Homo sapiens: one gene and its partners. The protein of the gene in region 3 purifies or fractionates together with the protein of the main gene of each other region. This does not show direct contact. Each region holds a gene or a part of one and is shown on either strand. Other genes may lie near its edges.

Region 1 (7,754 bases), on a different chromosome or scaffold from region 3:
GGATCCTTTTGCGGTTCATAGTGTGATGATTGAGTGTTCACAGGCATGTGTGAGATATGCCATCCTCAAACCTTGTTACAGGGTCAGCACATTACCCATCTGACATGAAAAAAAAAACGTTTGGAGGTGTCTAGGGCACAATATAGATCTTCCACCTTTAATCTAGCATAACTTGGTCCCTTTCCAATATTTAAAAAAAATTTAAGTGCTGTGTTGGCATTGGGTAGATAAAAGGGAGGGAGGAGAGCAAGGTGAGAGGAAGTTGTAATAGCTGCTAACTATATATATATATATAAAGCAGGTCTTTTTTGGATAGAATCATTCTAATTATCCTTTGGGTCATTGACCTAATGGGCCTCATTGTAGTTTTTAGCACTCCCCAAAATTCCGTGTAGATTGCTCTAGTCCGCTTCCCTTGTGGGACATTTTAAATCAAGGTTTATAATTTGATTTGACCTCAAGACTGTGGAAAATGTTGGAGATGATTGTTTTTAATTCAGGACCTTTCTCAAATCAACTTATTGTACGTAGACAGTTCTGCCTGAACAATGAATTAAAAGAATAGGCAGAGGGAGAAAAAAAGTTTAATTTGGAAGAGGTGGTAATGGAGGAACAGGATTTTAATCAGTTGGAAGGAGTTTAGTGGGGGAATTGGAGAGAAATTTTAAAAATTATCGTTTTTTTTTGAGACATGGTCTTATTCTGTTGTCCAGGGTGGAGTGCAGTGGTGTGATCATGTTTCATTGCAGCCTTGACCTCCCCCGTTGGAGCAACCCTCCCGCCTCAGCCTCTCAAGTTGCTGGGACTACAGGAGCATGCCTCCATGCCTGACTAATTTTGTTTTCTTTTTTATAGAGACAGGGCCTCACTACGTTGCCCAGTCAGATCTTGAACTCCTGGGCTGAAGTCATCCTCCTGTCTTGGCCTCCAAAAGTGCTGGGATGACAGGCGTGAGGCATGGCACCTGACCTGTTTTTTAATTAACATAGTTATCTATGTCATTTGCTCTACCTTCTTCACAAAGGACAGACCTATGCCTTTAAAGAAATTTATATTTGGCTGCAAAATCAATTTTTGATTCACGAATAGAGAGTTGAAGTGATAAGGGCTTTGGGTTACTGTGGATCAGTTAGAAAATGAAAAATTTTAATTGCCATTTCAATGACAGGAAAGGATTTGACTACTGACTATCCTAGTAAAAGGAGCAAGTTCATTATCATTAGAATAACATTACTAAAATATAAACTCCCGTTTAATCCCCATTCATTCCCTGAAACTGCAGTTGTTGAATGCTCTTTGTCTGGTGCAGGGACTACTAAGTACTGTTTCTCTGGAGACTTAATAGTCCGCTGGAGAGACCTATAAATGAGTGTGATTGATATAGAAGAGATTTTATGTGAGCATCTAGAGCAGGTATCTAAATTAGCCTAAAGGATAGGGATAATTTCCTAGATGAAGTAATGCCTTAGGTCAGCGTTTGTATTCAGTGTTTGTGGGGAATGCCAGAGTCAAGGAGGGTACAGAGGATGAATGTGAGCTGGACTTTGAAGTTTGGCTGGAGCCAAAGACAGCGTAGTGGAGATGGAGCTTAGCGTTATTGGCAGGAACTTACTGTGTAAGCTAATTTGAGTGTTTTCCTGAAAACCTATTAAATAATTAGATAACCTAATGAATAATACTAGACCTAGTAAATAATTTTTGGCAGGGGAGCAGCGTGGTCACATTTCATTTTTAGAAAGTTTACCTTCATAGCAGGGTTTTCAGCTTGGTAGTGGTGAGACTAGTGAAGAGGTCGGTCATTCATTGATGTGTCAGGGAGAGAAATGATTAGAACCTGAACTAAGGAAATGATAGTAGGAATGGAGCAGAGAGACTCCTGACATTTTAAGGACAGTGTAAGATTTGATGACTGGGTTCAGTAGTTAAGTGTGTATACCATATGTAGATCTGGAATACATGGAGCTAAAGCTGTGGGTGTCGAAGTGGTCACCGAGTGAGGTATATAAATGGAAAGATTGAAGAGCACCTAGATAGAGCCAAGTGTTGGAGAATACTTACTTAAATATCGAGTGGAGAAAATTGCAGCCAGACAAGGAACGAACAGAAGGATAGGAAGAAAACCAGGAATAAAGTGAGAGTGGAAACTGAGGATTCAGATCATCTGCAAATGATTGTTAAGGAAGCAGTCAGCATTTTCAGAGGCCTTAGAGTGGTCAGATGTAATTTTGTTTTTGTTTTTGTTTTTTTTGAAATAGGGTCTCGCTCTGTTGCGAGGAGTGCAGTGGCATGATCATAGCTTACTGCAGCCTCGACCTCCCAGGCTCAAGAAATCTTCCCACCTCAACCTCCCAAGTAGCTAGCTGGGACTACAGGCACTCACCACCATGCCTGGCTATTAAAAAAAATTTTTTTGTAGAGATGGGTCTTGCTTTGTTGCCCAACCTAGTCTCTAACTCCTGGGTGCAAACCGTCCTCCTGCCTCAGCCTCCCAAAGTGCTGGGATTACAGGCAAGAGCCTCCACACCTGGCAGATGTAATATTTTGAAAAACATGTTAAGACAAATTAATATGAAAGTTGAGCAGGTAGTCAAAGCAAGGCTTCAGAAGAAAGTACAGACTGGCGTAGGAGTAAGGTGTTTATCTCTTTTGGTGTTTTATTCTGTAATCTTCAAAGGCTCTTGGAAACCTCTGTTCTTCCTTGTTTTGAACAGTCAAGGAAATAATTCTTGTACATGGCAGAAGTAAGCTACTATTGCAATAAAAATTACATATAACAAGTTTGATTCTTTGCTGAACTCTTAAAAATGGAAATCTAATCTGTTTTTGCTTTTAGGCCTCTCTGTAAGGAGGCATCTTTTAAAATGAACTTCTACTTCTTGTTAAGCACAAATTTGTGTAATTTCCTATTTGACCAGCTTGAACATCCAGTTCCTGAGTTTTTAGTTCATATTTACTTTTTTTAATCCTTAATTTTAAAACAATTTTAAATTAATTATTTATTTTTGAGACCGAGTCTCTGTTGCCCAGGCTGGAGTGCAGTGGTGGGATCTTGGTTTACTGTAACCTCCACCTCCTGGATTTAAGCGATTCTCCTGCCTCGTCCTCCTGAGTAGCTGGGACTACAGGCACAACAAGTAGCTGGACTACAGGCATGCACCACCATGCTCGGCTAATTTTTGTTTTTTGTTTTTTTGTATTTTTAGTAGAGATGAGGTTTCACTATATTGGCCAGGCTGGTCTCGAACCCCTGCGCTCAAGTGATCTGCCCGCCTTGGCCTCCGAAAGTGCTGGGATTATAGGCATGAGCCACTATCCTCGGCCTAATTAATTAATTTAGAAACAGGGTCTCACTCTGTTGCTCGGGCTATATATATGTATATATGTGTATGTATATGTGTATGTATGTGTATTTGTGTGTGTGTGTGTATATGTGTATGTATATATGTGTGTGTGTGTGTGTGTGTGTGTGTGTGTGTTATTTTTGTTTGTTTGTTTGTTTGTTTTGAGACAGTCTCACTGTGTTGCCCAGGCTGGATTGCAGTGGTGCGGTCTTGGCTCACTGCAACCTCCCACCTCCCTGGTTCAAGCGATTCTACTCCCTCAGCCTCCCAAGTAGTTGGGATTACAGGCGTGCACCATCACGCCCTGCTAATTTTTTGTATTTTTAGTAGAGACAGGGTTTTACCATGTTGGCCAGGCTGGTTTTGAACTCCAGGCTGGTTTTGAACTCCTGACCTCAAGTGATCCTCTTGCCTTGGCCTCCCAAAGTGCTAGGATTACAGGTGTGAGCCACTGCGCCCACAATATATTTCTTATAGTTTAAATTTTTTAGAGATGGGGTCTTGCTTTGTTGCTCAGGCTGGTCTCAAACTCCTGGTCTCAAGCAGTCCTCCCACCTGAGCCTCCTGAGTAGTGGGGACTACAGGTGAGTGCCACAGCACCTGGCTTTGTAATTTTAACAGCTTTATTGGTATCTTGTTACTTGAGTAGTTATGCTCTAAGTATATACTTTAAAATAATTTTCTTCTTTCCTAAAATCTGTGCTATTTAATTATATAATAAAGGTTGAGGCCGGGCGCAGTGGCTCACGCCTGTCATCCCAGCACTTTGGGAGGCCGAGGCAGGCGGATCACAAGGTCAGGAGATCGAGACCATCCTGGCTAACACAGTGAAACCCTGTCTCTACTAAAAATACAAAAAAATTAGCCGGGTGTGGCGGCAGGCGCCTGTAATCCCAGCTGTTCGGGAGGCTGAGGCAGGAGAATGGCATGAACCCGGGAGGTGGAGCTTGCAGTGAGCTGAGATGGTGCCACTGCACTCCAGCCCGGGCGACAGAGTGAGACTCCGTTTCAAAAAAAAAAAAAAAAAGATTTACTTAATTTTAAATCTTGAGGACTAGTTTACAACCTTTGATTTTTTTTTTTTTTGAAGTTTTTTTGGGGAATGATCTCGATTATCGACTCGGAAAATAGATAGACTAAGTGCCAGATTTTAAATTATTTAATTTATACTGAAATTGGGAGCATGATGAGTGGGAATATTGTTTTTCCTCTCCCAGTGTTGTTGATTAGCCTTTTGTTGGGAGAATGCGTAATGGAAATTCGTCTAGCATCTGCTAGTTTAAAGTTGAGAGAAATGTAAAGAGACCTTTTTTGGTTATAGGGTAATGCCCTGTTCTGAAGATACGGGCCTTTTCAGGAACATGAAAATTAGTTTTAGTAATTCTTGATTTGTACCTTTTTCCTTCCTACTTCTGCTTTGTTTTGAAATAAGTTCTGTCTAGCACTTTGATCCATTCCAGCCCAAAGTGAGATGAGAATAATTCGTTTTATGTCTGAAGAAACATGCTTGGTTGTACAGAGGAAGGAACAGTAAAATTGGAGATAAGAGACCTGAATATCTCTATTTTATTTTATTTTTAGACAAAATCTCGCTCTGTTGCCCAGACTGGAGTGCAGTGGTGCAGTCTTGGCTCACCGCAACCTCCACCCATTGGGTTCAAGAGATTCTCCTGCCCCAATCTCCCGTGTAGCTGGAACTACAGGCATGCACCACTATACCCGGCTAATTTTTTTGTATTTTTAGTAGAGATGGTGTTGCACCATGTTGGTCAGGCTGGTCTCCAACTCCTGACCCCAAATGATCTGCCCCGCCTCGGCCTCCCAAAGTGCTAGGATTACAGGTGTGAGCCACTGCACCCGGCCATTCTTTGTACCTGTTATCACAGTTTGTAATCATAACATTTTTGGAATCAGATAATTTGACCAATGTCAGTTTCACTGGTTAGGCTGCAAGCTTTATAAAGAAAGCATCCAAGATCTCCTGTTACTTACTTAAGCCTACTAATATATCGTTTCACATATGAGAGTTTTTCCTGCCAGCTAAATTCTGACAAATGGAATTGCTGGGTCAAAGGGTAGATACAAACAAATATTTCTGATACATCACACAAGAATAATTGCAGCTCTAGTGAAGTGTCTTGTTCATGGAAAGTGCTCAAGGTTTTGATTTGAGAACTGTCAATTATATCTTTTGGTTAAGGGATTTAATACTTTTTAAATTAAGGTAAATTGGCATTCATTGCTTTAGCAAATATTAGGACTGCCTAATAGGTGCCTAGCACTGTTAGGTGCCAGGGATATTGTAAAGAGCAAATAGATAGGATCCCTGCCCTCTTGGAGCTGGGTGTTAGTGATTGAGATATATATATATATATATATAAAATCTTTGGTTGTACAGGGGAAGGAACAGTAAAATTGGACATAAGAGACCTGAATACCTCTATTTTATTATTTTATATATATATTTGAGACAGGGTCTTTCTCTGTTGCTCTGTTGCCCAGGCTAGAGTGCAGTGGCATGATCATGGCTCACTGCAGCCTTGACCTCTCTGGGCTCAAGTAATCCCCCTTTAGCCTTCCCAGTAGCTGGGACTACAGGCATGTGCCACCACCACACCCAACTAACTTTTTTTTTTTTTTTTTTTTTTTTGAGACGGAGTTTTGCTCTTGTTGGCCAGGCTGGAGTGCAATGGCGCGATCTCGGCTCACTGCAACCTCCGTCTCCCGGGTTTAAGCGATTTTCCTGCCTCAGCCTCCCAAGTAGCTGGGATTAAAGGCATGCGCCACCAGGCCTGGCTAATTTTGTATTTTTAATAGAGACGGGGGTTTCACCATGTTGGTCAGGCTGGTCTCGAACTCCCAACCTCAGGTGATCCACCCACCTCGGCCTACCAAAGTGTTGGGATTACAGGCGTGAGCCCCCGCGCCCGGCCTGTATTTTTTGTATAGACTGGGTTTCACCATGTTGGCCGGGCTGGTCTCGAATGCCTGAGCTCAAGCGATCTGCTCGCCTTGGCCTCCCAGAGTGCTGGGATCACAGGCCTGAGCCACTGCGCCTGGCCTGAGATATATTTAAATTAAAATAAATGCTCAGAAAAATGGTGTAATTACAAATGTATAGGTTTCGAGAGAGTATAAGAGAGGGATCAGATCTAGTGGGTGAGTATCGATGACCCTTTCTTTAGGAAGTGATATTGTTGCTGATATCTAAGAGAGATATAGGTATTAATTTGTGGAGGGCTGTGCTCGTGCATAGAACATTCTGGGGAGAAGAAACATTCTGGACAAAGGTCCCGAGGTAGGAGGGAACATGCAGGGCTTTGTATTTGAATGACAGAAACATCTTCTGGGCTTCAACCTCTTATAGGTTTCTTTTTTTTTTTTTTTTCAAAGACAGAGTCTGGCTCTGTTGTCCAGGCTGGAGTGCAGTGGCACACGCAGTCTTGGCTCACTGTAACCTCCGCCTCCTAGGTTCAAGCCATTCTTCTACCTCAGTCTTCTGAGTAGCTGGGATTACAGGCGTGCACCACCACTCCTGGCTAATTTTTGTGTATATATATATATTTTTAAATTAGAGTCAGGGTTTCACCATGTTGGCCAGATTGGTCTTGAACTCCTGACCTCAAGTGATTTGCCTGCCTCACTCTTACAGGTTTATTAACATTTTATTTTTTTAAGCCTTAGTTTCCTCATCTGTAAAATGAAGGAACTTATTAAGAAAAATTTATTTTTTTTTAAGAATTCAAGATCATGAATGGATAGTTTCTGGGATCCAGCCTAGCACCTAGCACATATTATGTACGCAATAAGTGTTAACTGCTATTTTCATAAATGTCATGTTGCTTTCCCAAAAATTGAGCTAATTTACAAAATGCCATTAGTACTATAAAAGTATATTTGTAATCCATCATCTTTGCCAATTTTGTTTTTTTAAGCATTTTTATGCTATTTTAATACAGTTCATAGTGGTGTCTAGAAGTCACATTAAAATGTATTTCTTTAGTTGCTAGCAAGGCTGCATGCATTTTTCCATATTACATTTTTGCTTGTTTGAGACAGGGTCTAACTCTGTTGCCCAGGCTGGAGTGCAGGGGCATAATCACGGCTTACTGCAGCCTCAACCTCCTAGGCTTAAGCGATCCTCCCACCTCAGCCTCCCAAGTAGCTGGGACTACAGGCGTGCACCACCATGCCTGGCTGATTTTTTTTTTTTTTTCTTCAGTAGAGAGGAGGTCTCGCTGTGTTACCCAGAATGGCCTCAAACTCCTGGACTCAAGTGATGCTCTGGCCAGGGCTTCCCAAAGTGCTGGTATTACAGGTGTGAGCCACCACACCTGACCTTCTTTTAGTTTCTTTTTTTTTTTTTTTTTTTTTTTTGAGACGGAGTCTTGTTCTGTCACCCAGGCTGGAGTG
Region 2 (4,064 bases), on a different chromosome or scaffold from region 3:
AACTGAAAAGTAATTTATCAGTAATTTTTAAGAGTCCATGTTTTGTGACAACCATCTCTAATAGCCAACTCTTTATTAAACACACTCCTAAAAATAAGGAACCATGACATTGTAGATATTTAATATTGTACAGTATAGAAACCTCCATTTTTGCCTTCGAATGCATATTTAAGAGTTAACAGAATGAAAAAAAAAAGTCTTGTTGGATAATAGTGTTTGACTAGCGTTTTAAGAACTTGAGAGTAAAAGCAACAATAAGATTTTTTCACCTCTTCCTGCTTCCACCCCCAAACTGAGAACATCACTCAATTGTTTGGAAGAAACTGTAGGTCTATATAAATTTTATTTATAATGTATGTGTAATATACATAATCATAATACAGTTCTCAGATGCAGGGAAGAAGTTTGGCATTTAATCATTGAGGCTTTAGGTTTTTGATGTGATCAGACTGGGCCATGTCAAACCCGGAATTTTCACCAACAGTTCACTCACCCTCCTGGTACATTGCCATTCCAAGGAATTCTGAGAGTAGGCAAACAAATTTTGCCTTCATGGTACAGTTCTCAGTTTTTCTTATAGGAGAAATATGGTATATGTTTATAAGAATCTTTTATGAGATTATAGATTTCAATGCTGTGGATAGTGTCTTGCACCCAAACAAGAAAGTCCATAATGGAATGATCTTCCCTCAGCTTCCTATCGATTTAGTTACCTCTTGAAAGCACAAAAATTAAAACATTGCCATATGTTGAATTTTTAAAAAGCACTTGGAGTGAGCGAACATTTCCTGATAAATGCCTTTTAGAGATAGGTTCTTGATATTCAGACATCTGCAGAAATGTTCTGGTTCCCAAAGTCATTTCACTTCGAAATAAAACACAGCTCCTTCAAACAGCACTTTTTCCACATAAATCTAGTTGCCTCTCCCTGTGGACATTCAGAACTGATAGAACAAACACTACTCTTTTGAATTTGATGGTTCGTGTCCTTTAAAGTGTTTGAGGACCTATGCAGAGCCTGTAACACTTGGGTAGTACCTGCTAGGACAATTTCTTGGCAATTGTCTTACTACTAGGGATCAGTAAGATTTAGATTCTGAGCCCATAATGGCAACAGCCCCCTCACCTATGGGAAGCTGACTTCCCTCAGTCGGGCACTTCTCATGGGGGCTGAACATGGTTCCTGCCATTCTGTTACCCACTCTCCCAGGTGAGCCCTGGATTGGCTCCCAGAAGGCCTTTGTAAAATCAGTAGCCGTCCTGCAGGCAGGTGGGAGCAACAGGGGCTTCAGTAGCTTCATTTTCCTGTCTTGCAGACAGAGACCCTTGGCTACCACTGTGCTGCTAATAGGATAAGTACTCTGTTGCCAGATTACCATGCCTTTTATACAAAACCAAATTAACTTACCTAATACCTGACACCTCTTTGGGCTCTGAACTGCTTTCTCTCATCAAGCATGCTAGCACTCTAGACAGAATTCTAGAAATTTGGCAGATAGTGGAAGCCTTTAATTGAACTTACTCCTTCGTTGACTGAAAGGAGTTTTAAATTCTGAGCTCCTGAGATACTGACTAGCAACCATGGAATGAATGTGTGACCAGAAAGTGGCTTTGACACCAAGTGCTACTGTCCCTTTGTAATTGGCTTCTAACAGAATTCAACCAGAAATAATTGATAATGTGAATTTTTGTTAATTGTTCACTTGTAGGAAAATAGAACATGTATCACCCTTTGTTAGGTAGACATGAACTTTTCCTGCACAAAGCCTTGCTTTTAGAGAATGCCCAATAAGGCAAGAAAAAGCATAGTAACTTGTGCTTTGAGAGCTCAATATTTGTATCTTATCAGTACAGAAGAAATATTTCTGTGTAACTTGATCTTCTGTCTAGTACTTGTCTTATAGGTAACCAACACTGAAAACTTTGTAGTGATGACTACCAAAGAAATACATAGTAAAACAACCTTTTATTTCCAAATTGTTAAAGAGCCAGCCATTGATGCTGCTACATGAGTTCCATGCTCAAGAGCCATTGTAAGAGATTAAGGGGTTTCTAGGTTTTTGGTGATTTTTTGTTTGTTTTTTTCTTTGTTTTTTAGGGTTTTTTTTTCTTCTTTAATTTTTTGATTAAAACATACACACAGCTGTTAGCATAAAGTCGTGGGGGGCATTTTCTGGAATGCTCAGCAGTTCTGATTAACTGCCAAGCCCAGGTTGCCTCTCATGAGGCAACTGAAAAAATCCTGTGTCTTGATAGCATGGGTGCTGTGTGTGTGCATGTGTGTGTCTGCATTCATGCCTTAACTCGGGTTACTGCACAACTTTAGTTCTTGACTTAGTCTGCACCGTCATCTAGATTGTATTGTACATCTCGGTCTGAACTTCATCCTGGCAAAAACAAAGTTGCAGGCACAACAGTTTAAGAATGCATTCCTCCAGAAGAGTATCTGGTCAGGTTGACCCCTGAGCCTTCTTTGGACTTGATTTGGAACTTAGCCTGGAAAGCGAAAGTGGACTGTCCAACAGAAAGATGTCAACAAGGAAAAGAGGAGAGCCAAGCGCTAGCATGCCTTTTGCCTCTGCATATCTGTGCACACTGTATGTTGTTCATGATAGCTTGTCTACAACTTGACTAGGTTGGAGTTCTGGTAATAGTGGCAATCTTGACATTCTTGGTCAGAGTTTAGAGAGATGTAAGACTTTCAATTAATGTCTTATTTACTCCTTTATGTTGATTAGTCTTTGATACATGTGCTGAATCAGAAACCTAAATAAAGATAATTTTTTAAAATGTACCTCTTGAGCCTTAAACCCTATCTTTTTTCATTTCGGTTTTTGGGAATAAAACATTGTTTCTCTGTTGCTTCTGACAGACATCTAACTTAAATTGTAAACTCTAAAGGCTGCCTTAGAAAGTAAATTTAAACAACTGGGTGCAGTGACACAAGCCTGTAGTCCCAGCTACTCAGGAGTCTGGGGTGGGAGGATCACTTGAGCCTTGAGAGTTCGAGGCTGTAGTGAGCTAGGATTGCGCCATTGCACTCCAGCCTGGGTGTCAAAGGAAGATCCCATCTCCAAAAAAAAATAAGGAATGATGGCACGAAAAGGGCTGGTATAGTTTTGCTTATTTGTTTTTGACGGAGTCTCACTCTGCCACCCAGGCTGGAGTGCAGTGGTGCAATCTTGGCTCACTGCAACCTCCACCTCCTGGGTTCAAGCAATTATCCTGCTTCAGCCTCCCAAGTAGCTGGGACTACAGGTATGTGCCAACACGCCAATACAAGTTAATTTTTGTATTTTTAGTAGAGACGGGGTTTTGCCACATTGACCAGGCCGGTCTCAAACTCCTGACCTCAGGTGATCCACCTGCCTCAGCCTCTTAAAGTGCTGGGATTACAGGCGTGAGCCACCATGCCTGGCTAGTTTTGTTTCTTAATCAGAGTGCTGGCTGCTTGGATGTGTTGAGGTTTTGAAAATTCATGAAACCGTACACTTAACGATTTGTGCACTGCTCTGTATTTGTGTTGTATTTCAGTTTAAAGCAGTAAACCTGAGGTTATGAAAAGGAAAACCATGCCCATTTCCAAAATGTTACATACAAATATTTATGTACAGGATTTGGATGTCACATTTGGGATGTTTCGTGAGCTTTAAAGTTTCAATCCACCTGTTTGGTGTTTTTTTTCTCTACTTTGTTGGAAGCATGGCTTTGGGATCAATTCTAGGTTTGAGTACCAATTATTTTCCTGGGATAGTTACTTAACTTTTCTGGGACTCAAGTTCCTTACCTGTAAAATAAAAATGTTATTTATGTGCCTGGCTAAAATAAGAAAATTGATGGATGGTACAGTATAGTCCTTCACACACAAAATCAGACGTGGACTAGTCTCTTCCACATCCATCCAATGAATGAGTATTTGGGGTAATGTTTTACACATGCTTGGGGGTATATGGTTTGTCAGTTGCATTTTCGTAAGCCCATAGTAGTTAGAGTCCACATTCTGTGGAAGAAATGCACAGTACTCAGTGGGATCCTCTTGGGAGTATAGTTTTCAAGAACCCATT
Region 3 (4,873 bases):
TGCACCTTGAATGTTCTTTGCCCTATAAGTTATTTTCATTATTTTAGAAAACATTTTTCTCTTTTCAGCTTCGTGGTGGATCCTGAACAACTAGATGTTCCTAGACATTTTCTTTATGGTTCCAAGTGCAAAACAGGTGTTCTTATCTAAAACGTCAATTAGAAAATTATCTGCGGTTGTTAATCTACTGTATATTTTTGTTTGGTATATTTACTAAGTGCACTCTTTCAAAACTTATTCTATAACTTTATCAATTCATGTGAATTTTAGCTCAATTTTCAAAGTTCACTAATATTCTCAATATTTAATGCTAAATGCTTTGCTACATTGTAACTCACCTAAAACCTTTTAGTGACAAAATCCTAATATGTGGAAAAAAGCATATGCATAAAGGAATAATATTGTGAAAATGAATCTGTTATGATAAAGAAAAAATAAAGTGGAAACTTTTAGAGTATTACTTCATAGGGCAGATTTTGTAAACTGTCGTATACTGTAAAGGGTTAAATCAGCGTTTTGTGATTTTTAAGTAACTGTGAGTGAAGTTTATTCTTCAACAATGTCTACTCCATCCCCAACCCAACTCACAGCCCTATGACTACTATCTTTGCATTAGTTAAAAAGTTAGTATATAGGCATCAAACAACCTTGGCTGTAACCTATAGAATCTCTATCCACGTATCAGGTTATAGACTGGTTTTTCAAAAGTGAACAATCCTGTGATAAGTTGGAGTACCATTTAGTAATACAGCAACATTGTGTCATTTATTAGCATCATAATTCTTTGTTATGTAAGTTAAATATATCAAGAAAGAAGAGACTGTTTGGAAAAATGTGGTTCAAGTTTTATGCTATATAGTTTTGGTATGCGATACAGACAGCTAACTTTTCTTATGAAAAATACATATTTGCATGTAAACAATGATTTCAAAATACTTGAAAAATAAAATTTTAACCCAAATGAATAACTAAGAAATATAAAACAAGCACAAAATCTTAGGGAAGTCATAAAATAGTAGTGAAAGTATTAGACAGAAGACATCTGTTTTCGAATTTCAACACTAGAATGACTAAAACTATCTACCTATAGAACTATCTGTAGATAGTATACTATCTACACTCTGCTCAACAAGCTCAGAAATTAAATATTTTTAATAATAAAAATCTGTTCTGGTTATAAACCTTGCTAATGAAAATACAATACATATAAAAATGTATAGCCATGTTATTTTCTAGTATAAATTCCTTTGAAACTATAAGTCTTTGAGGAAAATTATAAGGTAAAATTTTCCTGTTTTTCCCCCTTTGAAAAACTCAGGAAAAAAGGAAGATTGAACTAATAAAATTTTATTTCTTAAATATAAATTTGACCTAAAATATTTTCTCAAACTAATTCATGAAACAGCAACTTTTACCAATACCTTTGTATACTCTCAGTTCTCATTCAGTATAAATAAAATTTTAAAATCCTTTCATAGTTCTATTAGAAATAAGTAGTAAATTTTGATATATTGTACATACACACGTGTGTGTGTGTGTGTGTGTGTGTGTGTGTGTGTGTGTGTGTATTTGTGTGCCTCTGGTCAACTCTAAGGATGACAGACACTGTGTAACAACACCTGGGTCAACTCTTTTAATTTATATACAAAGCAAAGAACAACATTAATGGAGATGCACAATGATTATTCAAACAAGCTATATATATGTACAAAGGCAAACAGACACATAACAGTCTCTGCAGACTGATTGTATATAGTAAGAAAAGATCAAAAGACTTTAAAACCTAAATGACTTTTGACATACAAACTCTTCTTGAGAATGTTTGTTGTAAATGGTTTCAAAAATACAAATTATAGCCAATCAAAACATTGCTTTGGTTGGTGCATTTAAGTATCCAACTCAAAAAGCATATCAAATATTTTGGGTACTAGGCAGTTTCCAAAGTAGCATGGTAGTATTACTTGTTAAAAGGGTTCTGTTTTCATTAACAGTACTAAGTGGAAGGGATCTGCAGATTCCAAACTGGAATAAGCTCTATCATATTCTGAAACAAGAATTAGAATGACTTGAGAACGGGCAAATAACAAAGCAAACCAATATAATTATATGGTCATTCTGACCCCAGCTCTTATACAAATTATACATGTATTTTTGTGTATGTTTGTGAGAGTTGTATGTATGTGAATGTGTGTGAGTGTGTATTCACATACACATATATACTGGAACCTATAGTAGAAAAGGAAACTAGTAGGGCCAAAAAAAAAAAGAAAAAGAAAAAGAAAAAAGAAAAAAAAAGAAAAAACTGGGACCTAAGTATAAATATCTCATCCTAAAGTAAACAATAAGTTTATAGTTAACGAAGATTTTTTTCTATTTAAAACCCCATTTTCCTAAAGAACAAAGTAGTAAAATAAAAAAAAATTTAAAAAATTAAAAAATAAAAAAAAGAGGTCACTAAAAGACCAAGATGGGAAACGTAACATGGAATACAAGCTTGAATCTGGGAAACAAGCTCAAAAAACAGTGAAAAAAAAAGTACTGGTTTAGGAGTTCAAAATTCAGTGAAACAAACTTTTTGCCAATAGACCTAGGGATCTAAGAAATAGAATTAGGGAGAGTTTACACTTACTTACCTATATATCAGCAGATTTTTCTGGAAGAAACCCTTTTTTTTTTTTTTTTTAAACAGTAACATCCAGAGTGACAAATTGCAGGAGATTTAATGTATAAAATTTCTAGGAATTAAAAGCTTAAACCCAAAAATTGTTCATCCATATATAAGAAATTATCGAATTAAAACTTAATGTATGTCAATTATTTTCAAATGTCTAAATTCCTTTGGAAATAAAAATATCAGTTTTACTTTGAAATTGCTCAACTTCTGCTATTCATATGGTCTGATTAGTGACATAAGTAGCAGCCGTTTTTCAACTTCAGTTTCATTCACTACCATTGTTTCCAAATTATCAATCTCTGCTAGTAATTATGAATTTAAGACCATATTATTATCAAAAACCTAGAGACCAATCATATATCTGAAAAGAAATACCCATTAAAAATTCTGCCTCCTGTTTATTGAGAACTATGCATTGAACATTCTGAATCATTCTAAGCCTCTGGAGAGACTGTAATGATCCATTCATGAGCTGGTATGAAATCAGTGGGAAGCAGAACAACAGAAGGAACTTTAAAAGCAACAAGCAATTATGTACCATATATACACTGTAGCAAATATTTTATATTTGAGAGTCTTTACAGCTTACATTTCCATTCCATTATTACAAGTGATGAAAAACAAAAAATTGCAAGTAGTATGCAAATTATAAATATACAGTCTTCCCACTTCACTAACCAAATTCCTACTTTCCAGTGTTACTTCCCAATTTATGCAGGAAACCTCCTGCAAAGCTGAAACTGATTAGAAAATTCTTTATATTTTAAAATAGCTCTTTCTCATTTTTAGAGAAGTCAAATAGCCAACCATCAAAATTAAGAATAAATTGAATTGTCACAGTCCATTACAGTTATTGTTGCTAGATCCACCTCATTTGCAGATGTCCAAACTTAAATTCATCTGTTCTTAAAATGCTACTTAAAACTTTGGTTGTTTTCCTGTAATATAAAAGAAAAAGTTAATTTATCAATTGATTGAATACAGTTTTTACTAATTAGTTTATCAAACCAAATACTGTGAACGTACCAGGTGTTTACAGATTTAAATGCATGTTACCATAGAAACTATTAAAGTAACTAGAACTGTCAAATAACAAAACGGCTCATGTTTTTAAAATATATGTAACTCATTTTAAAATATATTAAATTGTATTCCAAACCTGTTCTTCTGTTTCTGTGGCACCTAGGTTTAAAATATGTATTAATGTGTAAATCACAAGTAAAATGAATTCTAATGTACAAGTTTGTTTTAAAAAGTGTATGTCAAGCTTTTATTTACACAATAAAATGTTATTAAAGATGGAAAGTCTACAAATGAAAAAGTGACTATAGTTTATATAGCACTGAAGTTTACATTTATTCTTACAGACCATGGATTACATATCCCAAAGATCTTTGAACCGGTGGGAAAGTTGAAACATCAAGTACATTTTTTCTTATTTAATATTTATGCATGAGAAGTATTATAAAAAATTTTAATTCCTGCTTTAATTAACTTTAAAAAGAATTGGCTAGAGATCTAAAGTTAGGGAGTTTAAGAAATATTAATATAAACTATGAACAACATAATGTTTTTTAAAAATTATAATTTGAGGAAAAAAATACTATGAATTCCAAAGAATTAGAATACCAAAAATGGAGATAGAAGGTAGTAGTGTTTATCTCCCATTCGAACTGTTCTCAGTATACCTATATTCTGAATCTCATTTCAGAAGAGTCCTAGCTGCCTTTACCTATATAAAGGTATTTACGAAAACTCTAATAGGAAGTTAAATTCCAGTCAAATGTAAGTAGAGACCACAAAGAATGGGAATCATTTACTAAAAGCATAATGAGAGAAAGGTATCATACTCAGTAATCTCATGCATTATTTTATTAATCCTAACAGCCAGAGATTATCATCCTTATCAGCAATTGCAAAACTTATCATCCTTATCAGCAATTCAATGAGGTTAAGTGACTTGTCCAAGTTCGAACTACCGGTACACAGAATGGAGCTACAATTTGAAGCCATGTCTGATGACAAAATCCATGTCCTTTCCAATGAATATCCTAAGAGATGCATGTATGTATTTATTATGTGTATTTATTTAGATGGAATTTGATAAGGTAACACAGAAATATAAAGGGCTAAGAATAGCAAAGACATGTTAAAGAAAAATACATGAGATGATTTGTTATAATGTATAAAAAGACTAAT
Region 4 (7,754 bases), on a different chromosome or scaffold from region 3:
TGAGGTCTTACTGTATTGTCCAGGCTGTAAGCATTTATCTTTAGAGTTTTTCATTACTTTGCACAACCATTTTATATATTAAGAACAATAATCTCTTATCAGACATCTGTTGTAATTAATAAATTAGTAAAATATTTAATAAGCAAAATAAAAATCAGCTTCCTGTCAAAAGACTAAGAAGAGGTTCTCCTTCTCCTCTCCCTATTAAAGAAAATAAGTGGCCGGGCGCTGTGGCTCATGCCTGTAATCCCAGCACTTTGGGAGGCCAAGGCAGGCAGATCACAAGGTCAGGAGATCGAGACCATCCTGGCTAACACGGTGAAACCCCATCTCTACTAAAAATACAAAAATTAGCTGGGCACGGTGGCAGGCACCTGCAATCCCAGCTACTTGGGAGGCTGAGGCAGGAGAATCGCTTGTACCCAGGGGAGTGGAGGATGCAGCAAGCTGAGATCACGGTACTGCACTCCAGCCTGGGTGACAGAGTCAGATTCTGTCTCAAAAAAAACAAATAAAGAAAATAAGTTTTAATTTCCAAATATTTGGCATTTCTTGCCAAGCAAATGAAATCCAGCAATCCTATTTAATTAACAAGTGCTTTTACTGCGAAATTTTTCTCAATGCCTATAATAAATAAGCACTTTCACAATTCAATCAACAACTCAAAAAAGTTTGAAGGCCCAATGCCAAATGTAGTCCTTTAACAGAATCAAGAGACATTATGATGGTTCAAAGGCAAATTAATTGAAAAGAAGAAAAAAAGCATCTCATTTTTGGAAATAGCAAACTTCTAATTTGAATGATGTTTAAAGTATGCAAGTTAGAGGCCAGGCACAGTGACTAAGTGTTATCACAAAAGAGTCAAGAGACTGGGCATGGTGGCTCACAACTGTAATCCTAGCACTTTGGGAGGCTGAGGCGGGAGGATCACATGAGCTCAGAAGTTCGAGACCAGCCTGGGAAACATAGTGACACAACCTCTCTACAAAAATTAAATAAAATTAGCTGGACGTGGTAGCACATGCCTGTAGTCCCAGCTACTCTGGTGGCTGAGGTGGGAAGATCGTTTAAGCCCAGCAGATCACGGCAGTAAGCCATCATCATGCCACTGCACTCCAACTTGGGCAACAGAGTAAGACTCTGTCTCAAAAAAATTAAAAAAAGAAAACTTTTTAAAGAGCCAAGTTTCTTTTTTAAGTTTATAAAGGCCAGGTACAGTGGCTGATGACTGTAAGCCCAGCATTTGGGGAGGAAAGGACTGGCAGACTGCTTAAGCCCAGCAGTTTGAGACCAGCCTGGGCAACATATTGAAAATTGACTCTACAAAAAATAAAAAAAAAAAAAATAGGCCAGGTGCAGTGGCTCATGCCTGTAATCCCAACACTTTGGGAGGCCGAGGCAGGCAGATCACTTGAGGTCAGGAATTTGAGACCAACCTGGCCAACATGGTGAAACCCCATCTCTACTAAAAATACAAAAATTAGCCAGGCGTGGTGGCACGTGCCTGTAATCCCAGCTACTCAGGAGGATGACACACAAGAATTGCTTGAACCCAGGAGGTGGAAGTTGCAGTGAGCCGAGATCACACCACTGCACTCCAGCCTGGGCGACACAGCGAGACTCTGCCTCAAAAAATATAATTAATAATAAAATAAAATAAATAATTAGCCAGGCATGGTGGCACACATACATAGTCCCAGCTATTCAGAAGGCTGAGGTAGGAGAATTGCTTGACCCAGGAGTTAAGGCTGCAGTGAGCTATGACTGAGCCACTGCACTCCAGCCTGGATAACAGTGTGAGACCCTGTCTCAAAAAACACAAATAAAAAAATAAAAGCCGGGCACAGTGGCTTACTCCTGTAATCCCAGCATTCTGGGAAGCCAAGGCGGGTGGATCACCTGAGGTCAGGAGCTCGAGACCAGCCTGGCCAACATGGTGAAACCCCATCTCTACTAATAATACAAACATTAGCCAGGTATTGTGGTACGTGCCTATAATCCCAGCTACTCGGAGAATCGCTTGAACTCGGGAGGCGGAGGGTGCAGTGAGGTGGAGGTTGCAGTGAGCCGAGATCACGCCATTGCACTCCAGCCTGGGAGACTAGAGCAAAACTCCATCTCCAAAAAATAAAAAATAAAATAAAATACAGAAGTGAGGGCCCTAACCACACAAAAGGATAATACTAGAAGTTCACAGTGCAAAATCATCCTTTCAACTGGGGTGGAAAACCCACAGTAATTTTTTAAGTTTATAATTAGATTTAACAGCATTAGGATCCTAATAAGCAAGTTAAATCAGAAACCTTGAGACAATTACAAATATTTTATGTATATTTTGGGACCCAAGTATTAAGGCTATAAATAAATATTAGCCCACATCTATGAAAAACGACTCATGTTTCTTTCTAATGAATTGACCATTACATTTCCAAAGTTATGAAATGGCCAACAGACCATAGAAAGACAATTCTTTAGGCTCCTGCTTGAAACCAACAGCTTCAGCAAACTGCTGGCCTTGATTCAGGGCCAAAGGAAAACAAAATCCTTCAATTAAGCAAACTAGCACAGAGATTCCCACTAGTCTTCAAACTAGCAAACCACAGCCTTAACAGGCAGAGTAAAAAGATACGGGTAAGGCAGTGTCTGGTCATTGGAAGAGACTGATTGGAACAACGAACATCATCCACAAAGGCCAAGCACCTCTGACTGGAACGAGTGGTATGGGCCTGAAATGGAAAAAGACAGATAAAATAGACCCACAAAAGAACACACAAACAATTACGATGAAAATAGTTATATAAGAAAAGCACATCCTAAAGGCTAGAAATTCAACATTTAACAAAAATAGATTCACCAATATTATGCAAAAGACAAAAAACTTTAAAACCTAGTGCATAAAGAATGAGTCAACCTCAATCCCAAATACACCTCTCCATATTCTAAAAGTGTGATATAGCCTATTTAACACAAATTTTGTCTTTTACCAACAGAACTCTGAAATTGCAGCCTTAAGTGGAATCTCAACAAATGAAACAAAATTACTCTTACTGAAACAGAGACCAAGGGTCTGAAAAACAAATTTAAGAATGATCACTTAATTCTTCTTCCTATTAACCTTACTTCCTGACATTCAATTGCTCCTATTCTACCTTCCCACCTTTTAAAACAAGATTCCCAAGCAATTTAGGATTAACCTGTGCTTATTTCTGAACTGAAGAATATCTGAACCAAGGACTTAGAAACTTTTCCCAACTACTCAATATGCAGATGAGAATACTGAGGCCCAGAAAATTTAAGCTAACTGTGCAGACACAGAGCTGGTCAGTGGGGACTCACACTAGAATCCATGTCTCCTGACTTCAAGCTAAGTGCTTTCACTATAACCCATGTGCAAAAAGTCAGATTTCAGATCCAAGACTGGACATAGGGAGTTCAAGACCAGCCTGACCAACATGGAGAAACCCCGTCTCTACTAAAAATACAAAATCAGCCAGACATGGTGGCACATGCCTGTAATCCTAGCTACTCAGGAGGCTGAGGGAGGAGAATCACTTGAACCCAGGAGGTGGATGCTGCGGTGAGCCAAGACGGCGCCATTGCACTCCAGCCTGGGCAACAAGATTGAAACTCTGTCTCAAAAAAAGACTGGACATAGTGTTTTGACAATTACTCTAACTTTGTAAATAAAGTGAACATGAACAGGCACGGTGGCTCATGTCTGCAATCCCAACACTTTGGGAGGCCGAGGTGGGTAGATCACGAGGTCAGGCATTGGAGACCAGCCTGGCCAACATAGTGAAACCCCAAAAAATACAAAAACATTAGCTGGGCGCATGGTGGTGGGCACCTGTAATCCCAGCTACTCGGGAGGCTGAGGCAGGAGAATTGCTTGAAACTGGGAGGCAGAGGTTGAGAGATCTCAGTGAGCCGACATCGCACCACTGCACTCCAGCCCGAGTGACAGTGCGAGACTCCGTCTCGAAAAAATAAAAACAATAAATAAAGTGAACGTATATACCTTAAAGGTATACACACAAATTACCTGTTGGGCAGCACCATCTGTGGCCAGCATTCTCCGTTCCTTCAACTGCCTATGCAGTAAGGCTTCCACTCCATAGCGCTGGCGGTATCGTCGCAGACATTTTAATCGCTTTAAGTTCTCTCGTTCTTTGGCCAAAAGTCCCTCTGGGCCAGTCAGGAGACTACTGCCTAGAGTTACAAGAGTCAAGATGTTATTTGCCAAGCAATCCATCAAGGTTACGTCTCCAAGTCAACAAGTAAACAGGAAAATCCTTGGGCATAAGATAGGCAGTTTCAAAAGCAAATGACCCCCAATCCAGGTACCAAGACAGAAATAAATCTAATTATAGTCATGCACTATATAACCACTTTTTAATCAATCATTGACCATACATACTATGGTGGTCCCATAAGATTATAACAAAGCTGGAAAAAAAATTTTTTTTTTTTTTGAGGCACAGTCTCGCTCTGTTGTCCAGGCTGGAGTGCAGTGGCGCAATCTTGGCTCACTGCAAGCTCCGCCCCCCAGGTTCACGCCATTCTCCTGCCTCAGCCTCCTGAGTAGCTGGGACTACAGGTGCCCGCCACCACGCCCGGCTAATTTTTTTTTTGTATTTTTAGTAGAGACAGGGTTTCATTGTGGTCTCGATCTCCTGACCTCATGATCCGCCTGCCTTGGCCTCCCAAAGTGCTGGGATTACAGGCATGAGCCACCGCACCCGGCCAAAGCTGAAAAATTCTTATTGCCTAGTGACATCATAGTTCAACCCACACATTTGTGGTGATGCTGGTGACCAAACCTACTGCACTGCCAGTTATATACAAGTCTAGCACAGGCTGGACACAGTGGCTCACACCTGTAATCCCAGCACTTTTTGGGAGCCCAAGGCGGGCAGATCACCAGATCAGGAGATTGAGAACATCCTGGCCAACATGGTGAAACCCCATCTCTACTAAAAATACAAAAATTAGCTGGGCGTGGTGGCATGCGCCTATAGTCCCAGTTACTCAGGAGGCTGAGGCAGGAGAATCGCTTGAACCCGGGAGGTGGAGGTTGCAGTGAGCCAAGATCACACACTGCACTCCAGCCTGGCGACAGAGTGAGACTATATCACAAAAAAAAAAAAAAAAATCTAGCACCTACAATTATGCACAGTACCTAATACTCGATAATAAACAACTATGTTACTGGTTTATATATTTACTATATTTATCCTTAGAATGTACTCCACTCTATTTATTAAAAAAAAAAAGTTAAATGTAAAACAGCCTCAGGCAGTTCTCTCAGAAAGTATTGCAGAAGACATTGTTATCATGAGATGACAGTTCGCTGCATGAGATTGTCCCCGAAGACCTTCCACTGGGACAAGATGTGGAGGTGAAAGACAGTGACACTAGGCCCATGTAGGCCTAGGCTAATGTACGTGTTTGCATCTTAGTTTTTAACAGAAGTTTAAAAGGATTTTTTTTTAATTAAAACTAGAAAAGCTTATAGGGATATAAAAAAAATTTTTGTACAGCTGTACAGTGTTTGTGTTTTAAGCTAAGTGTTATTACAGAGTCCAGAAGTTTTTCTTAAAAATTTTTTTAAGTTTATAAAGGCCAGGTGCAGTGGCTCATGCCTGTAATCAATCCCAGCACTTTGGGAAGCCACGGTCGGAGGATCACTTGAGCCCAGGAGTTCAAGACTAACCTGGGCAACATAGCGAGACCCTGTCTCTACAAAAATTTAAAAATTAGCTGAGTGTGGTGGTGCATCTGTAGTCCTAGTTACTCAGGAGGCTGAGGCAGGATAGCCTGAGTCCAGGAGTTGAAGGCTGCAGTGAGTGAGGACTACGCTACTGCACTCTGGCCTCAGTGACACAGCAAGATTCTGTCTCTTTAAAAAAAAGCTTATAGGCCAGGCGCAGTGGCTCATGCCTGAAATCCCAGCACTTTGGGAGGCCAAGGTAGGGGGATCACTTGAAGTCAGGAGTTCCGAGAGCAGCCTGGCCAACATGGCAAAACCCCCCCTCTACTAAAAATAAAAAAATTAGCCGGGCATGGTGGAATGTGCCTGTAATCCCAGCTACTTGGGAGGCTGAGGTGGGAGAACTGCTTGAACCTAGGAAGCAGAGGTTGCAGTGAGCTGAGATCATGCCACTGCACTCCAGCCTGGGCAACAGAGTGAGACTCCATGTCCGTCTCAATTAAAAAAAAAAAAAAATGAAAGTAAAAAAGTTACAGTAAGCTAAGGGTTAATTTATTATTGAAGAAACTTTTTTTATAAATTTAGTACAGCTTAAGTGTACAGTACTTATAACGTCTAAAGTAGTAAATAATAATGTGCTAGGCCTTCCCATTGACTCACCACTCACTCACTCGCCCAAAATAACTTCCAGTCCTACAAGCTCCATTCATGCTAAGTGCCCATTTTTAAAATCTTTTATGCCATAATTTAACTGTACCTTTTCTCTGTTTAGATGTGTTTAGGTACACAAATACCACTGTTACAACTGCCCACAGTATTCAGTACAGTAACATGCTTGTACAGGTTTGCAGCCTAGGTATGTTGCAGGCTATACCACCTACGTTAGCGTGAGTCACTCCATGAAGTTTGAATGACAAAAATCACCTAACAAAGTATGTATCCCCATCATTAAGTGACACATGACTGTACTACCAAATTCACATGTTAAACCCACAACAGCTTGTTGGAACTGGCATAAAACTTGCCTAGAGCTTCATGTTCCACTTTGCGATTATGTAAGTATCGGCGCTTCTTCTCCTTGAGCAGATGCTGAAGTCGTTTAAACTGATCAATATACAACGACTGCAAACGAATTAGCTTTTCACGCATAATCAGGGCCACTTCTTCTGCTGTGTAGACACCAGCATGTCTGGAATAAAACAGAATTCAGCAAAGCATAAGAAAACAATAATAATAAAACCCAAGTTTGAAAGAGTAGAGATGTCAGACTAAGTTTGTTATTTAACAAGTGGTGACATAATCACCTTAATGTTTTTGCAAAACATTGTACCATTCAAGTTGTTATTAAATAAAACAAAAGAGAAAATCTCCAAGAAAGAATACTAATCTGTGATTTCCCAAAATGGGGGAAGGAGAAATGTCTTATTTTTCCCAGCTATTTGCATTATGTTGAAAAGAAAGTGAACATGCGGAACACTTTAAACTTTTATTAATCTACATTCTTAATGTTTTGATATGAAATCATCACTTACCAGTCAAGACAGCTTTAAAGTGTTCAATTAACATGTATCTTTCACATATACATATATACATGTATATATACGTATATATATATACATGTATATATATATATACGTATATATATATATATATATATATATTTTTTTTTTGAGATAAGGTCTCACTCTTGTCACCCAGGATGGAGTGCAGTGGTGCAATCAATCACAGCTCACTATAACCTTTGCTTCCTGGGCTCAAGCGATCCTCCCACGTCAGCCTGCCGAGTAGCTGGGACTACAGGTGTGCACCACCCCACTTGGTTAATTTTTGTATTTTTTGTAGAGATGGGATTTCACCATGTTGTCCAGGCTTGAACCCCTGGGTTTAAGCGATGCTCCCGCCTCAGCCTCACAAAGTGCTGGAATTAAACGCATAAGCTACTGCACCTGGCAATATATTTTAATTAAAGCACTAAAGATACCAACATCAAATAATTTTTTTTTTTGAGACAGTCTTGCTCTGTCACCCAGGCTGGAGTGCAGTG

What was found.
Region 1: the proteins of NECAB1 (region 3) and RNF138 purify together in Homo sapiens (affinity purification with mass spectrometry; 2 studies listed by BioGRID and IntAct, with this or other methods). This does not show direct contact.
Region 2: the proteins of NECAB1 (region 3) and CCDC6 purify together in Homo sapiens (affinity purification with mass spectrometry; 2 studies listed by BioGRID and IntAct, with this or other methods). This does not show direct contact.
Region 4: the proteins of NECAB1 (region 3) and KANSL2 purify together in Homo sapiens (affinity purification with mass spectrometry; 2 studies listed by BioGRID and IntAct, with this or other methods). This does not show direct contact.

What each region holds. Positions count from the first base shown.
Region 1 is NC_000018.10:32,094,502-32,102,255, forward strand, and holds part of RNF138 (E3 ubiquitin-protein ligase RNF138), read left to right. Parts: intron 1-2; exon of another isoform or gene 3-105; intron 106-7,754. UniProt on the Homo sapiens protein: E3 ubiquitin-protein ligase involved in DNA damage response by promoting DNA resection and homologous recombination.
Region 2 is NC_000010.11:59,787,493-59,791,556, reverse strand, and holds the end of CCDC6 (coiled-coil domain-containing protein 6), read left to right. Parts: 3' UTR 1-2,810; downstream 2,811-4,064.
Region 3 is NC_000008.11:90,955,419-90,960,291, forward strand, and holds the end of NECAB1 (N-terminal EF-hand calcium-binding protein 1), read left to right. Parts: intron 1-68; coding exon 69-94; coding exon of another isoform or gene 95-150; 3' UTR 151-3,588; coding exon of another isoform or gene 3,589-3,612; 3' UTR 3,613-3,975; downstream 3,976-4,873. Other genes in the region: uncharacterized protein C8orf88, read right to left, coding at 3,589-3,612.
Region 4 is NC_000012.12:48,665,064-48,672,817, forward strand, and holds part of KANSL2 (KAT8 regulatory NSL complex subunit 2), read right to left. Parts: intron 6,900-7,754; coding exon 6,736-6,899; intron 4,210-6,735; coding exon 4,043-4,209; intron 2,727-4,042; coding exon 2,630-2,726; intron 2,531-2,629; exon of another isoform or gene 2,394-2,530; intron 1-2,393. UniProt on the Homo sapiens protein: Non-catalytic component of the NSL histone acetyltransferase complex, a multiprotein complex that mediates histone H4 acetylation at 'Lys-5'- and 'Lys-8' (H4K5ac and H4K8ac) at transcription start sites and promotes transcription initiation.